Linked DNA regions of Homo sapiens: region 1 is linked to region 2. A link means that fine-mapping ties the variant in region 2 to the expression of a gene that starts in the linked region. Tissue or cell type: whole blood. Region 2 holds a variant in brackets; the other region holds the start of a gene. All regions are shown on one strand. Distances are between the middles of the regions.

Region 1 (8,105 bases), 160 kb after region 2:
ACTGAGCAGATGCAAATTCTGATGAATAATGCAGGAATTTATTAATAATGATGATGTAAATTATGTAAATTATAGTCATGGTATGTGATTGGACCAATAACTTTCCATATGCAAACCTACTGGCTAAATTTTCAGAGTATAAGTTAGAAGAGGACACTCAACTTAATATTCTGTTCACCCATTTGATCCAAGGGAAAGAGAATTTTCCAAGAAAGCTTAATATATTCCAAGCAACTTTAAATTCACTCAGTACTCTCTGTGACTAAGGGTACAGTAAAATGCACAAACTTTAGAGAATGATTAAAACAATCACAAGAAGGGGCTCATCAATCTCAGGCTTCAGATTCTGTGAACCACAGGAATGAACCACATTTTCTAAGACTGGGGGTGGCAGGGAGGCCTTTAATACAAAAATCTCTAAACTCTACATTTTTTATGTACCCACTCGATGTTTCAAGTTATGTCATAGGATTTCAACACTGCTGGAGCCTCCCCAAATCTCATCATAAAAACTGCTCCTTTTAGCTTTGACTGAGGACAAAAATGGAGGAGGGAAAAGAATATGCCACATCATTTCCAAAGGAGGAATAAAGAAAACCTCTGCTTCAAAGATAGCACAGGTGAAACGGTGTGATTCACAGCAAAAGCAAGAAAAGTATGTGTGCAGTGTGTGTGTGTGTACACGGTGTGTGTGCGTGCATGGTGTGTGTGTATGCACGGTGTGTGTGTGTACATGGTGTGTGCGTGCACGGTGTGTGCATGTGCTTTCAGATAGCTTGAAAGATTTTTCCTCTTAACTTTTCTTTCCTCTTAGTCAAGAGCCTCAGAAGATAATTTCGGATCTATTTCTACATACATGTGGGAGGAAAGTACACAAACATTCTCATTGATTTACTAAGCATTTGCAGAATGCAGGGGAATTTTCTACCTCTAACACGACTTCAGGAACAATCCTAAGTCCTCGCAGAGGTTTCACCCCAGGCTCCTTCCCCGGCCTGCTCGCCCACCTGTCCCTGCCCAGAGGAGCCTCCTTGGCTCCAGGCAGAGAAAGGTGGACAGGGCGCTCCGCTGAATCTCAAGCCGTTCCATCATCCCGCTAGCTGGCACTAGAAATTTGCATTTCAGCCATTTCCAGGTCCAAACCCCACGGCAGCCCCCTCCCCAAAACTCTGGAAGGCGGAGACCTAAGGCGACAGGTCTGCACAGTTCCTCACACCAGTGGACAAAAGTATGGTGCGACCTCCTAGGCAGGATAATTAGGTCCCCAGGCTCGGTGTTGGGAATACAGGCCCAGCATGCCGCTGGCGGCCACAATCCCGGCTTCCTGCCTTCAATACCATAATCCTTCCTGGAGTCTGAGCCCCAGTGAAAGCCCCAGCGTGTTTATTTTTCCCCTTGAAAGGGAACTCTCTTCTCAGCCTGCACGCGGGAGGAGTTGTCACCCTCCCTCTGATGGATGGCTCTTCTCGGCCGCCCGCCCCCCGGTCCATTTTCACCTCGGCACAAGCCTGCCCCCAAAGACAGGCAGAGTGACAAGCAGGAAGGGCTTGGCTGCGGAGCGGTCCCCATGCCAGGCCTGTGCTGGGCTCTTCAATTTACCATGACATTCCCAAAACCCCCGCCCTCCAAGAAGGCAGACCAATACAGTGCCCTCCGCTTTGGGCTTCCACCTAAGGGGTGATCTGTCCACTGCTGGCTCGGCCACTGGGATCACCTGGTGTTTTGTTCCTGGGTAGATTTCACATCAGGAAAGTCAACAGTGTCCGGCTCCTCCAAAGTGCAGACCCATCTCTTCGCTTAAGGCCTCCCTACTTCTCCCCAGCACTGAGTAGGAGCGGGAGCTGTCAAGGGGTCAAGGCTAGGGGGAAATTCCTCAACAAATTGAAATCTCAAAAAACACACACTGACCCAGGACCACAAAGCCCTCCCGGTTTAATGCTTGCGTCCAATCAGAACTTGCGAGCAGCTTGGGGGTGCTCCCCACCACCACCCCCTTTCAGGGCAGCACTTCTTTCATTTGTTTGCCTGAAATATCCTGTTTTTCTCCCCCTTCTCGGGGCGCTAAAGAGCTCAGAGAAATCTGCATTTTAATTGACATTCCAGGGAAAGAGAGAGGGGCGCCTGATTGCTTTTCTATTCAAACTAAACAGGCTTTTCAGATGAAAATGAGTCGAGCCCGGTGGAAGATTTACAGGGATTTGGGACCAGGGAGACAATGGAGTTTTAAATGTTGATAGCGTTTCACACCAAACACATAATGGGTGCCCTGAGTTTGAAAGCAGGTTTGCCTTTAAGGGTAGGTTTTATTGAATTGGGAGAAAGGAAGGAGGGTCTGGAGAACGGTCTGCAAGGGAGCGGGGTGCGAGGAGAGCGACGGAGGCTGGTGGTCCCCGAGCGGGCCTCCTGCGCCAGGTCCGTGGTCCGCGAGGGTCGGAGCCAGCGCCACGCAGGGCCCTCGGCTTTTTTCCCCAGCGCGGCCCCGTGGCCGAAAAAAATGAGCGCGCAAGTTAGAACTCGCCTGCGCTTTCGACATCTCCCAGCCGCTGCGGCAGAGCAGGCAGGCGAACTAGAAAAAGTCGGTCCAGTTCGCCCCCTAGCCCCAGGCGCACTGCGCTCCCTCCAGCGCCGACGGCGGCTGCGGGCGAGGGGCGCCCAGGCACCGGAGCCGTCGCCTCCCCAGCAGTGCCACCCCTGGCCATCGCCACCCCTACGGGATGTCACCGGCCCCACCCCAGCGGCCCCCTCCCGAAAAAGGGGTCTCCGCAGGGCCTGGATGGTACGGAAGTTCCCAGGACACACGGATGGGGCACCTCGGAGATGACCCCGGGAACCGGCCTGCGGGGCTGTGCCACGGGCAGGCGAACCTTCCGCCCGTCTGCTCTGGGGTCGGAGAAACGCGCCCAGTCAGCGGGAATGCGCCCGCCAGGGTTTGACAGGGAGGGGGGCGTCAACGCCAGAAGCAGATGTCAGCATCTGGATGGGGGTAGCAGAGGCAGAACTTCCAGAACGCCGGCCGTCAGCACGCACCCACCTCCCCCATCACCTATGCAGCCACAGAGGGAGGACACGGAGCGTCCTCCACAATGCTAGTCCTTCCGCGCCCCCCGCCCGGAGGACGGTGCACCCGGCGTCCCGGGCTCCCGTGGCGCCCACGTCCCCGGCTGGCGAAGCTCCCCGAGGCGTCTTGCGCGGCGATTACCTTGAATGGCAACGCTCCTCCGCGACCTGTGTTGTCCCCGCGCCCCGCGTGGGTCGGGATGGAGAAAGCGACGAGCCCGGGGTTGCGGGGAGCAACTCCAAACGCAGAAGAGTGGTCCTTGGGTCTTCGCCGGCGCCAAGCCTCCCGGGCTTCACGCGTACCCCAGGCTGCGGAGGAGCGCGGGCATGACGCCCGCGGGCTGCCCTCGGATTTGGGGAACGAGAGGAAGAAAGGACTCAGGCTTGGCGTTGCCTCCACCAAACTTTGCTCGCGAGTTGCGAAGGCTCAGAGCGCGCAGGCAAGCTGCGGCCTCGGGGCCCCCGGGGCTCGCGGCCGGCCCCCGCCAGCCCGGAGAGCAGTCGCCGCGCCGGGCCAGGTACGCCGCATGCAGCCCCGCGGCGCCCGAGCTTTGTGGCGGCCGCGCGCGCTCCCTCGCCCGCTCCGCACCCGCCGCCCGCCCGCTCGGCTCTCCACCGCGCTCTCCTCCAGCCGCCGCCCGCGCCGCCGCCGCCGCCCCCGCCTCCTCGCGGCGGGTCACGCCCCCACTGAAACCCGAGCCGTTTCCTGGACGGCGGCGCCCTCTCTGCCAATCAGCGCCGCGCGCCCGGGCCGCCCCGAGTCCCGCGCGGCTCCCGACGCCTCCGAGCAGCCGGAGACACCGGCCCGGGAGGCGAGGGCTCGGCCGCGATGCGGCCGTAGGGATGCAGCGACAGCCTCCGAATAAGGCCTGGTCCCGCGCCCCGCGCCACCTCCTCCCTCCTCCCCGGGCGAGCGAGGCTGGCCAACGGCTCGCTGAGCGACTGCGTTACGTTGTTTTATGTCAAGTTAGAAAACAAATGACCGAAGGCTCTAACCCTGCCCTCCCGCTAAAGAGACTTTAAAATGCGCCTGCTTGATACTGCGGGGAGGGTTGCCAGGCAGCTGAAGCTTTTGGAGGAGAGGAAGCCACTTGGAAATGTTCGCAGGACATTGCATGTTTCTGTCCTTCTAAACAATAGAAATGAGAGGAAAAAACTGAATATTAATGGAGGCCCTACTATGGGAGGGTCACACTACATAGGTGATTCTATTTCATCTGCCCAACCACCCTGCAGAGTACTATTCCCAGTTTCTGATAAGGAAACAGGATCAGAGAGGTTAAGTAATTTGCCTAGGACCACACAGCTGGCTACTAGGACAGCCTGACTTTGAATGTGGCTCTCTCAGAAAAAGCCAAAATTGCATCAAAAAAAAAAAGTGTTTAATAATATATGTTTGGATTAATAAAAAGAAATTCAAAGGAGTCTAAAGACAACTCTACCATAAATAGACCTTGAACAAAGTAATTCCTCCCTCTGAATCTTAGATTAAAAATCATAAATGCAAAATCTGATTCTTCAACTGCACACCAAGCTGTAACTGGTTAAAGTTCCTATGTCCATTTACCTTTTCACTAAGCCGTGTCTTCGGAATAATTTATTTTAAATATGCTTTTTCTCCCTCCTTATTCATCCAGCTCCTGAGCAGCCGTGCTTAAGTTCAAGACCATATAGATTAAAACCTTAATTATTTTTCTTTAGAAAAGGTCACTAAACCCAGAAATGCTTTAGAATCCTTTTGAGGCCTGAAGATAGATGAAGCATTGAGAACAAACCTGACTTGGAAAACAGACTTTTCCTGGATTTAGAAACATATTTGCACCTGTGTCACTAACATTGCACCCTTCATAACATTTACAAAAATATTTTTCAAGGTGCTACATGATTAGAAAATCATTTTTATTCACAAATATAGCACAGAAAACGTTTATGCAAGTTATTTAAAAGCCACACAAGTAAGAAATCCATTTAACTGCCTCAGGCAAAAGGCTATAACATTGTATTTTGGAAATTTGATAGCAACAAAATAAAAACTGGTTCTTAAGCAAAATTATCCCTCTATATGCTTGGTGGGAGGGTATGTTTTTGGTCAAGTCCTCTAACCTGGATTAGCCCCAGAGCCTATACATTAACGGACACCTCAGCCCAGGTTGACACTTAGCCATTCACTCCCACACGGGTTGTTCTGATAGCAGTATGTTTTCAAGTTCTCAGAAAAGGGATGCAGCTGAACGTGTCTGCCTGCTCGCAGGTTGCCACTTACATCTTTATATTCCCCACCAATGGGAAACTCGAGTGTCTCAGGACAGTTCCTTTCCCATCCTACACCGCATCCATCAGCCATTGAAAATGCTGTTAACACATTCTCACATAAATTAATGGTGCAGGAAGCCGCTGTCCCTATCCCCCATTCATCAATAGCTTTATGCATGTTGAATGGAAAGGAAGCTTTCCGCTGAAAATGACAAATAAGAACACCTACTTTCATGTCCAGGCACAGTTTGCAGAATGTATTTTTTATAGAAATGAAAAGACACCAATCTATCAAAAGCTCCTTATTCCCTAAAGAGGGCTCATATATAAGGGACTGAAACCCACAAGACCACAACAGGAAACTCTTCAGTTTTGAGGAGGGGGGGGAAGTATGTTTAGAATTATTTTTAAAAAATCAATTATGTCCCCATATTTAGTCTTCAAGTGACCTCAGACCATCCAGGAAAACCTTCACACCACTGAGGCTTCTGAATGAGAAAATAATCTCTTTACAGTTTTTTCTTTTCTCTTCCCTCTTCAAGTGGCTGGAACCCCTTTCGTCAATGGCCTCCCATGAATGGTGTTGCTAATAAAGCCTATTAATGAGCTTCCACGGCGGAGTGTGAATAGGTAAATAAGCCCCAATCTGTTGAGGTTCTGGGGCAAGGGCAGAAAAGCCAGTAAGAACTAAAGGTGACAGTTTGAACTGAACTGCGAACGCCAGCACCAGGTTTCAGCTGAAAGAACCGCCAGACAAGGACACATTCACAGTTCCTCCACCCCCTACTGAGGTCTCTTTTCTTCGCAATTTTCCCCCCTTTACAAAATGTCTTGAGTAGTCACCCTTTTTTTTTTTCAAAAGCCCTCGAGACGCCCTTCTTTTTTCACTCTAGTAATGATACATCAATGGGAAGGAAGAAAAATGAGGACACCAGAACTCCGATGCCCCCAAAAGTTTCAAGAAACAAATTGTGCTGCTAGCCCGTTGGTGATGGGAAGAGAAAGGAGAAGGGGGTGGGAGCGCTCACTACCATGGGCCTCTCTCCTTTGAAGATTTGGAATTTTTCTTTTAATAATTTGTTTTGTAATGGGTGGCTGTTCCTTCACTCTATGGAAACGTTAGATGAAATAAAGGCTGCTGACATGAAGTGCTCATGAACCTTCCCGGGTGGATCTGAGCTCCCTGCAACACCAGGAATTTCATTCTCTAAGCTACATCTCAATAGTGCCCTCGGCATAAAAGAAGCACTCAAATGGAAGGATATAGAATAGTCGGAGGACTATGATAAGAGTATTTACTTCTGGGTAAGGGGAGGGGCTGGATGCTGTGACAGCTCCAGCCCATCTTCAGGGAGCTTGTGGCATTTAAGTGAAGCAAAATCATTGATCCCACTACTGAACAGCATCAATGATTTTAAACTTAGAACTGGGCCTGAATTCCAAAGCCAAGGCTTCCCCGGAGACAAAGTCCTTCTGGAAGTATAGCCTCACTTTGAGGCAAAGGGGAATGGCTTTCTTAAGGTGAGAGGCTGGATGCAGCTTTCTTTACTCAATAGCTTTGTGACCTGTGGCCGGGCGCAGTGGCTCACGCCTGTAATTCCAGCACTTTGGGAGGCCGAGGCAGGCGGATCACTTGAAGGCAGGAAGTCGAGACCAGGCTGACCAACATGGTGAAATGCCGTCTCCACTAAAAACACAAAAATTGGCCGCTTGTGGTGGCGCATGCCTGTAATCCCACATACTCTGGAAGCTAAGGCATGTGAATCGCTTGAACCCAGGAGGCTGAGGTTGCAGTGAGCTGAGATCGCCCCACTGCACTCCAGCCTGGGTGACAGAGCAAGATTCCCTCTCAAAAAACAACAAAAAAAGGCCTGGCATGGTGGCTCACACCTGTAATCCCAGCACTTTGGGAGGCCGAGGCAAGTGGATCACCTGAGGTCAGGAGTTCAAGACCAGCCTGACCAACATGGAGAAACCCCGTCTCTACTAAAAATACAAAATTAGCTGGGCATGGTCGTACATGCCTGTAATCTCAGCTACTCAGGAGGCTGAGCCGGGAGAATCACTTGAACCTAGGAGGCAGAGGTTGCGGTGAGCCGAGATCGTGCCATTGCACTCCCGCCTGGGTAACAAGAGAGAAACTCCGTCTCAAAAAAAACAAACAAACAAACAAACAAACGCTGTGTTACCTCAGGCCAGTTGCTTGAGTTATCTGAGTTTTCCATTTTCTCAGCTGTAAAATGGGGAAAATAATGGTTCTTATTTCCTGGATTTTTTTTTTCTTTTTTTTTTTTGAGACAGAGTTTCACTCTGTCACCCAGGCTGGAATGCAGTGGCACGATCTCGGCTCACTGCAGCCTCCACCCTCAGGGTTCAAATGATTCTCCTTCCTCAGCCTCCTGAGTAGCTGGGACTACAGGTGCCTGCCACCGCGCCCAGCTAATTTTTTGTATTTTTAGTAGAGATGGGGTTTCACCATCTTGGCCAAGCTGGTCTTGAACTGCTGACCTCGTGATCCACCCGCCTCGGCCTCCCAAAGTGCTGGGATTACAGGCGTGAGCCACCGCACCCGGCCTCTCCTAGATCTTTAATAGGATCACTAAGAGGATGAAATGAGTTAGGACGTGACAAGCACTTAGTTTTTCTTTGTTTTTGTTTTTTTATTTGTTCGGGTTTTTTTGGTTGTTTTGTTTTTGCCTTTGTTTTTGTTTTTGTTTTTTGGTTTTTTTTGAGATGGAGTCTTGCTCTGTCATCCAGAGTGCAGTAGCGTGATCTTGGCTCACTACAACCTCTGC
Region 2 (8,105 bases):
CAGGATGGTCTCGATCTCCTGACCTCATGATCCCCCGGCCTGGGCCTCCCAAAGTGCTGGGATTACAGGCGTGAGCAACCATACACGACCATTTTTTTTCTTTTTCTCTGAGACAGAGTCTTGCTCTGTTGCCCAGGCTGGAGTGCAATGGCGCAATCTCGGCTCACTGCAACCTCCACCTCCAGGATTCAAGCAATTCTCCTGCCTCAGCCTCCCAAGTACCTGGGATTACAGGCACCTGCCACCATGCCCGGCTAATTTTTGTATTTTTTAGTACAGATGGGGTTTCTCACCATGTTGGTCAGGCTGGTCTCGAACTCCTAACCTCAGGTGATCCACCCGCCTCGGCCTCCCAAAGTGCTGGGATTACAGGCGTGAGCCACCGCATCTGGTGTGTGTAATAATTTTTTAGGTCAGAAAGCAGAAGGAAAGGGAACCTCAAAAGCTTAGATCTGAGAGGACCAGACTGGGGCATGAACAAGGAGTTTGAGTGCCCTTGATACTGGATGGATTCCCACGTTGGGCAAAAGGGAGTTAGAAGGCAAGTTAACTGAGACAACTGTGGGTCCTTAAGGAGGAATCCCAAACCACACTCCCATACACACATACTCTAAGAAATGAGTGTAGAGGAAAGATGAGAAAATCTAAGAATGATTACTGGAACCCTGGGTGGAAGAACCGATGCACCGTGTCCTGGGTGGAGCACCCAAGAATGTGGCCAAACTTCAAAAAGATGACTATACTTTGTCTAGGCAGACAGAGCCCTGGCTCCTTAGATAGGTGTGAGGGCAGCAGATGTTTCCTTGGCACCATGACATGGCACAGAAAACCTTTACCCCTGGGGGAGACTTACGAAAGGGAAAGAGGCCAGCTGAGCTGCAACCTTCATGGACCAGAAGGGGCAATGGACGACTCAGTAGACATCAGCATGAATAGGTCACTCTTAAGGGCCTGGCCCCGTGACCTCATAAGCCCCTGTATTTTCAGGCCCAACCCCAGAAACAGAGGAACGTTTCTCTCAATTGACAAAGAATTGATTTCTGCCATCCTGAAGTTCAAAATAGACATTAAATTGAGAATTTAGCTAAATAAAGGAATCCACCTTTTGGGACACCTGAATTGATGAACCACTCTACAGAGGACTGGGCATCCCCCACAGAGCAGGCAAAGAAAGGGCAAGGATGCCAAAATGAGACTAAGATGGCCCAGTTCTCCCAAGTGAATCCAAACCAGGATCTTCATTTTTCCTAGATTAAAAAAGAAAAATGGGCCAGGCGTGGTGACACACACCTGTAATCCCAGCACTTTGGGAGGCCAAGGTGGGCAGATCATGAGGTCAGGAGATCAAGACCATCCTGGCCAACATGGTGAAACCCATCTCTATTAAAATACAAAAAATTAGCCAGGTGTCATGGCAGGCGCCTGTAGTCCCAGTGACTCAGGAGGCTGAGGTAAGGTAATCGCTTGAACCCAGGAGGCGGAGGTTGCAGTGAGCCGAGATCACGCCACTACACTCCAGCCTGGTGACAGAGCAAGACTCCATCTCAAAAAACAAAACCAAACAAAGAAAAACTACCTTAAAGCCTCTCAAAGCTACAGGGAGAGTCAATGCTTTTAGCATTGATGGTTTTTCCTCTTCTTACCAAGTCAGTGCTTCATATTTATTGGGTGTCAGAGACCATGGTTGGACAAGGCAGAGGTGGAGAGCATGGAGGAAGATGGCCTCAGCCACAGTGGCAAGAGTCTTACTTCCCACCCAGTGCCTCCAACCAGGAGGGACCCCAGCCTCTAACCCACAGCCAGCCTGAGAACGGGGTGTTGTGCAGAGGGTGAGCAAAAGCCCTGTTCACAAATGCAAGAGCCTGACCCCACCATTGCCAGCTTCAAAGCCCTGAGCAGGCGACACCTCAGGGACACTCGCTCCCTGTGCAGGAGGAAGAATATGGGACCAGCTAAGGCAGGAGGACTGGGATCCTGCACACATCATTCACGTGACTCAGCAAGTGACTTCGCCTCCCAGCTTTGTTTTCCCTCCTGGGTCACTTCTGGCTAGGGAAGGTGGTGAGAGAGCAACAAGGATCAGTGAAGACTATCCACGTAGCTCCTTAAAGCTGAGTTCTGACACCCAGGCCCCAGCGGCTCACACTCCACAGCTGAAGAGGAGTTTGTTGTGTGGTCCCAGACACATCCCTCCTCCCACATCTGACAATAAGGCCAGTGCTCTGAGCTTCTTGTCACACAGAATGCCATTCCCTTCTGCCACACTTCCCAGCCACCCAAGAGTCGTGATCTCGTTTTTCTTCCTACCCTTTGTTGTCAAACAGTTACGCTGGCAGGACAAACACTACAAATCTTACCTTTTCTTAGCAATTGCATTGATTAAAAGATCTATGTCTTTCCTCAAAGAAAGAGATTATAGGAGTGAGACACAACCCTTGGAAATGGACATTTTACCAAAACGATGCAAAATCGAACTATGGGGTCCCAGTGGATGAAAACTATTCCCCCAGCAAAATTTTTTTGTTTCCTTTTTCTTCTGTAAGAAATCATCAAAGCAAGACGATATGCACCCAGGCCACGGCCATTCGTTGGCACTGCCTGGGGAGCCTGCCGCTCTTGGTCTTCCTCTCCTGGGATCTGAAAAATCAGCAAGGAGTCACAACTTGAGCTCCAGGCCTTCCTGCGCAAGCGACCAAGTAGCAGTGAGCCGTGTCACTGCGGGGCCGGGGCCTGAATGCAATCCTCATTCTAACCACAAATCCCAACATTCGAGGACACACTTCTGGGCATTTTCTTTTCTACCTTTCCTGAGTCTTTTTGTTTTTTAAAGCTAATATTTTAAAAAATATTACATAAACCTGTGTTATCCCACTTGGGAGTTTTTGTTCCAACTAAGGTTTGGAATTTTTTTCTAATTTTCAGACAGTAACTGTAACAAAAATTCACACCAGCCCTGGGCTCCTCTTTTGGCAAGACGATGTAATAATTCCATTCCAATTGACTCAGTCTGTTGAAGTTGATGTTCCAAAATGGTCTAACACCCACTTTATTAACATTAGAGCTAATTTCTTTTGAAGGGAGTTTAAAGCAGCCAGGACTTAGATTCTGGGGTTAATTGGTCTGTTTGCCACTGTTTGTCAGGGCCGTCTTTAAAGAACATCTTCAAAGACTTGCTCTGATACTCGCTCCCGCATTGTCTGAAATGCCTCAAATGCCTTTATCAATGCCAAAAAATGCAGTGAGTGAAAGGGCTTTTTACTTAATTATTTCTGAAAACCAAAAAGGGGATTCCATATAGACAGTTAATGAGAATTGACACAATGAAATTAAAATGCATGTTCAAGCCACAAAAGCCAGAAGAGCCACACTTCTAACCAGGGCAGGCAATGGGAAGAGTCCATCCTACCCCAGCCCTCCGCCTCACACTCAGGGATGGGGCTTCATTTTCTTATCTCTTGAAATTGTTTCCATTTTCAAACCCGAGCTGATTTGGTTGCACAGGTTGCTTAGCAACCCACGGGACAACAGTATTTGGTTTTAAGATGCCAACATCTGCACATCATTCAAAGTATAATTTTTAATTCAAAAACTTATGTCTGGAGACAGGGAAGAAAATGTAACTTTGAAAAATAAAACAGAACTGGATTTCTTCATACAAGTCCTCCTGCCGCCCCAGTCCCCACCCCTAAGCAATTCATGGATTATGTGGCTGCTTTTCGCAATTCCATGTCTACATTCATATTTTTTCCAGTTTCTTTTCTGGGTAAATAAGAGTAGGAAAGGAGAGCAAAATGGAGCATTTCTTCAGGTGTCCAGAAGAAAAGTAGAAAAACCTGCATTTTATCTCTAATGTAATTAGGAACGCTTCAGAGCAGAAGACAAAAATATCTGGGCCTCCATTTTATTGAGAATTACGGTTATTGTGGATCCAACGTTCTGCCTAAGTC[G/A]GATAAGAATCAGGATATGTCTCTTGACAGCCATTCTATGATGGGGCACTTGGTCTACACTAAGATATTCTTTGCTACATCTGGAGAACCCAAGGCTACTACTTCCCCCAACCAAAATAAGTAAATGGCAACCCCAAAATGAAATCAGAGAAACCAACCAGCAGAGAAACTCAGATATCCAACACCTAATCAGGAGTTAACTTCGTGATCTCTAAATACAGCTCACATTTTGAGAACCTTGGTCTCCATTATGTCAAATCCAGACACGGCTGGGTGCTGTTTTGGGCCTGGCATTTCTTGGAAATTGCACCTTCCAGTTCTTGCCGTTGTTTAAACTCCCAGGTATCAATATATTTGCATGTTGTTTGAGGAAAAATGCAACAGAAACCGCCACAGGGGAATCAGATTTGGAAAGAATAAGGGCAACTCCAGAACAACACCTTTCTTTTTAAAAAACCCAAATGGCAGTGCAAACTGATGCTATCATTCCACTGGCCTCTGCTTGAGCGAATACATTAGCCTCAGCTCCTTCTAATCTGGAGAGGTCACATTACCTGCTGGAAAGCAGAGGAAACCCTAAATCACTTGACGCCAGAAAAAATAGCCAGGAAAACTCGAGTGAGCAGAGGAACCACAGATCTCCATTTAGGAAAGGGTCTCCTTAACCGGTCAGCTTCGGAAGGGCTTTAACTAGGAGATCCTCCAGCAGGAAAAACAAAGGGCTTGGTGCTTTGCTAAAACAAAAACACACAAACACAACTCCCTCACCTTTCAACATAACACCCTAACCCATTGTTAGGTTCTGGCCACTAGGATTTTTTGCCCAGAGCAGAGATCTGATTACTGTTATCTCCACTTGCATAACTACAAATGTTATCATTACTTCTCAACTGATATGGCTCTGTTTTACAAACACAATGGAAGGCTGTATGTACACTTGCCCTCTCACCAGAAGGGCTGGTTTAAAATAGATGAAAAAAAGAGAGAAGAAAGAGGGGGCTGGGAACTGAAAGGCAGGCCTGCTGAATGAGCCTTTCAGAAAGAATTATGTGATAGGTTTTGTGTGTGTGCTTTTTAAAAACGCTGCTGCCAAAGCTCAGAATTGAAAAGTATGCAGTGGGCATTGTTTCAGAAACACAATGATTTATTTTGCTGGTTCATTTTCAAACAAGGGCTTTCTCCTTATTCCCTGAAATGTGTTTTGGGCCCAAATCTTCAAAATGTGAGGAACAGAAGTTATGCAGAGAGCCGGGTCCGATTCAAGATAAACAAGCATTATATTATAAATATGACAGTGGCATATCCCTGGCCTCCAAAGAGCCTCGTCTGTTTGCCCAGACTGCAGGCATTTTCTCCATCCAAAAAAAAAAAAAAAACCCCAAAAAAACCCAAAAAACAAAACAAAAAAAAACCTCACAGGGGTAGAAGCAGGGTTCCTCTGGTCAGCCTTCCTGGCTGCAGGGCCGGAGAGAGGCCTGGTCATTGAGCCCCTCAAAGCCAGAGCTTGTATACACAGGCTGGGTCAAAATCAGGAGTACAAGACATGTGGCTTCTTTGTTTTCCTGGTCCCATCCCACAAAGCTGAAGCCTCATCCCCGTTAATTCCCACTCTGTTTCCTCCAAGATTGCATGGAAGTTCCTGGAGGCTCACTCGGGCCTGGCTGTGGGAGGTAGGCCAGAGAAGGGGAAGGATCTGATCCTCAAGGGGGCCATCTGTCCACACAGCAGCTACTAGCAGGACTCTCCTGCCTCTGGCCCTCTGCCCACGCCACTCTTAGCCATACTGGACTGCAGAGTTTGCACCGTGAAGTGGGCAAAGCTTTGCTGCAGGCCCTCTCAGGTTGGGCCCCTTCTAGAACCCTTACTTGATTTTTTTAACAATATATTTTTTTAATTATAACTAATTCACATGCCATAAAATTCACCCTTTTAAAGTGGACAATTCGGTGTTTTGTAGTATATTTGCAGACGTGTCCAATGATCACACAAATTCCAGAACATTTCATCACCCCCAAAAGAGACACTGCCTGTATCTCATCTGAAATTTATCATTTCTAATTTTGTTTTCTAAAGAGGGTCTCAAATTGTTTAAACCTTAAGTCATCTAACAATTAAATTCACCTCTGGATTCAGAGACCTCCTGTAAAGCAGCCTCAGGTCAGCCTCCCTAAGATCACTGGACAGATCATTCTACTCCAGAACCAGAGACCCCGGGCGATGGGAGGCGTGGATGCCCTGGATCGCAGATCCCCGCCACCTGCCTGGGGTTTCTGGTTTTACCACCATTTCCCCAGGTCCTGGGCAGGATGCACAGTCCCCTCTGGAGGACCCAGCTAAACCCAACCTCTCTTGCTTCTCTGGGGCATCTCCCCAGTCCTGAGAGCATGGGGACCCCATAACCTAACTCTTCATCTAGTTCTCCTTTTAAGCCCAAACCACAAGAATTTGACTCTCTCATTCTCTGAATTGTGTCATCCCTTATCTGAGGCTGGGAGGAGAAAGAAGTAGCTGCCTCATCAAAGGTCACAAAATAACTGAAAGTAATGCTTGGAAGTTGCTGAGAACAGCCATGGACATCAGGCTTAAGTGGTACAGGGTTCACCTGCAGCAGAAAGGAGAAAGCAAAGGTACAACACCCAGCCGCTCCCCAGCTTTTGGTCCCCTAAGGCCATCGGATCTGCTCTGTAGCTGAGGTAGGTGATGGGGCTGCGTACAGCCTGCTTCATGCTGCAGTTGAAGAAAAGGACCCACTCTTCCCCTGTGGGGGGGATCACAAAATAACTGAAAGTAATGGTTACCAAAACCCCTCCAGGGCCAATTTATCCAATTACTCTCCTGATACACATGGCATAATACAGCTCCAGACTTGCAGCAATTGAAATGTCACTGCCTGGAGGCTGCTCCAAGCAGAGCCAAGGGTGATGCCAAGTGGCCTTGTAGCAGGAACCCTCCCTGAGATTCATACCCCTTCCTCAAAAAAGGAGGTGGCTTTATGAGCCATCTAAAAAAATTTTTTTTAAATAAAAAAAAAGGACCCAGGGCTCCTTTCCCCTTGACACTGCCACCTGAAGAAACAGTGGGGCTGGGAGCCATGGTTGCAAAGATGAAGCTCTGCTCAAAGAATCAGGGCCCAGGGGGTCCTGGTCTACCATAAAATCATTAATTTGGGGTTATATATTCACTTTCACACTCTGAACCTCCATTTACCACCTGCAACATGCCAAGCTACTTTGGTTGTAGTTCTCTAGTACTCCCTGGTGAGATCTCATCTCCCTTCAGGGATCACTTGATTTGTGTTTTTACTTGATTTCACTTAATTGAAAAGACTGAGAAATGGATGGAACACAAAGAAAGCCCAAAATTCCCCTTGGGTGGCCCAGGGCAAACATCTGAGGTCATTTGCTGCCCTGGAAGAAGACTGTCTGAATGATGGAGCCAGGCCAGGTGGAGGAGCCCCAGGTCAGCTTTCTATCCTGGGAAAGAGGAAAGGAAGCCAGCACTTTCCAGTCACTTCTACATCAGTAAATGGCAGGCCTGAGGTTGGAGCCATCACCAAGGGTCCAAATAGTGGTGGTGAGGGTAATGGTGACAATGATAATGGCAGCAGCTCCCCTGTGTTCCCTTGCCAAGCACTGTGCAGTGCAGTTCACATTCAGGACTTTGTTTACTTCTCACCACCATTTTATGATGCAGGTACTGATATTATCCCTGTTTTGCAGATGAGGAGAAAGCACATTAAAGAGGTGAGAACATTTGACCAGGGTCATACAACTAGGTATTGAGAGAGAAGCACTTTCACTCCGTCCACCTGCCTCTGGACTCTTGCTCTTAACCACTGCTCTACGCTTCCTCATCTGGGAAAGGCCAAGAACAGGCCATCCTCTGGTTCCAGTGCAGAGATGGCCTTCCCAGCCTGGACCAAGCAATGAAGTGGGTTTAGGCTTCCCTCATGTTAGGATTGAACTTTTATTGCTTTATTTTCTATGGGAAATGGATATCTGACCTCAAAAGTAACTATTAATATCTCAATTATCTAGGGGAGAAAATGCAACCCTACCTCACACCACATGGCCAAATAAATTCCATCTGTATCAAAGATTAAATGATACATTGAAATCATAAAAATACAAGAAAAATAGTATTATAATATTGGAATGG

Evidence for each region. PIP is the estimated chance that this variant, and not a neighbour inherited with it, causes the effect.
Region 1: FGFR2 starts here. The variant in region 2 is fine-mapped to the expression of FGFR2 in whole blood (TOPMed, PIP above 0.99).

What each region holds. Positions count from the first base shown.
Region 1 is chr10:121,594,763-121,602,867 of GRCh38, forward strand. FGFR2 (fibroblast growth factor receptor 2) reads right to left here and starts at 3,682. Exons shown (of 18, transcript NM_000141.5): 1 at 3,200-3,682. RefSeq lists enhancers at 1,417-2,152, 2,153-2,888.
Region 2 is chr10:121,432,154-121,440,258 of GRCh38, forward strand. No RefSeq gene overlaps it. Among named protein-coding and RNA genes, the nearest start is that of FGFR2, 160 kb to the right of the region's middle. The variant G/A (reference allele first, on the strand shown) is at 3,948.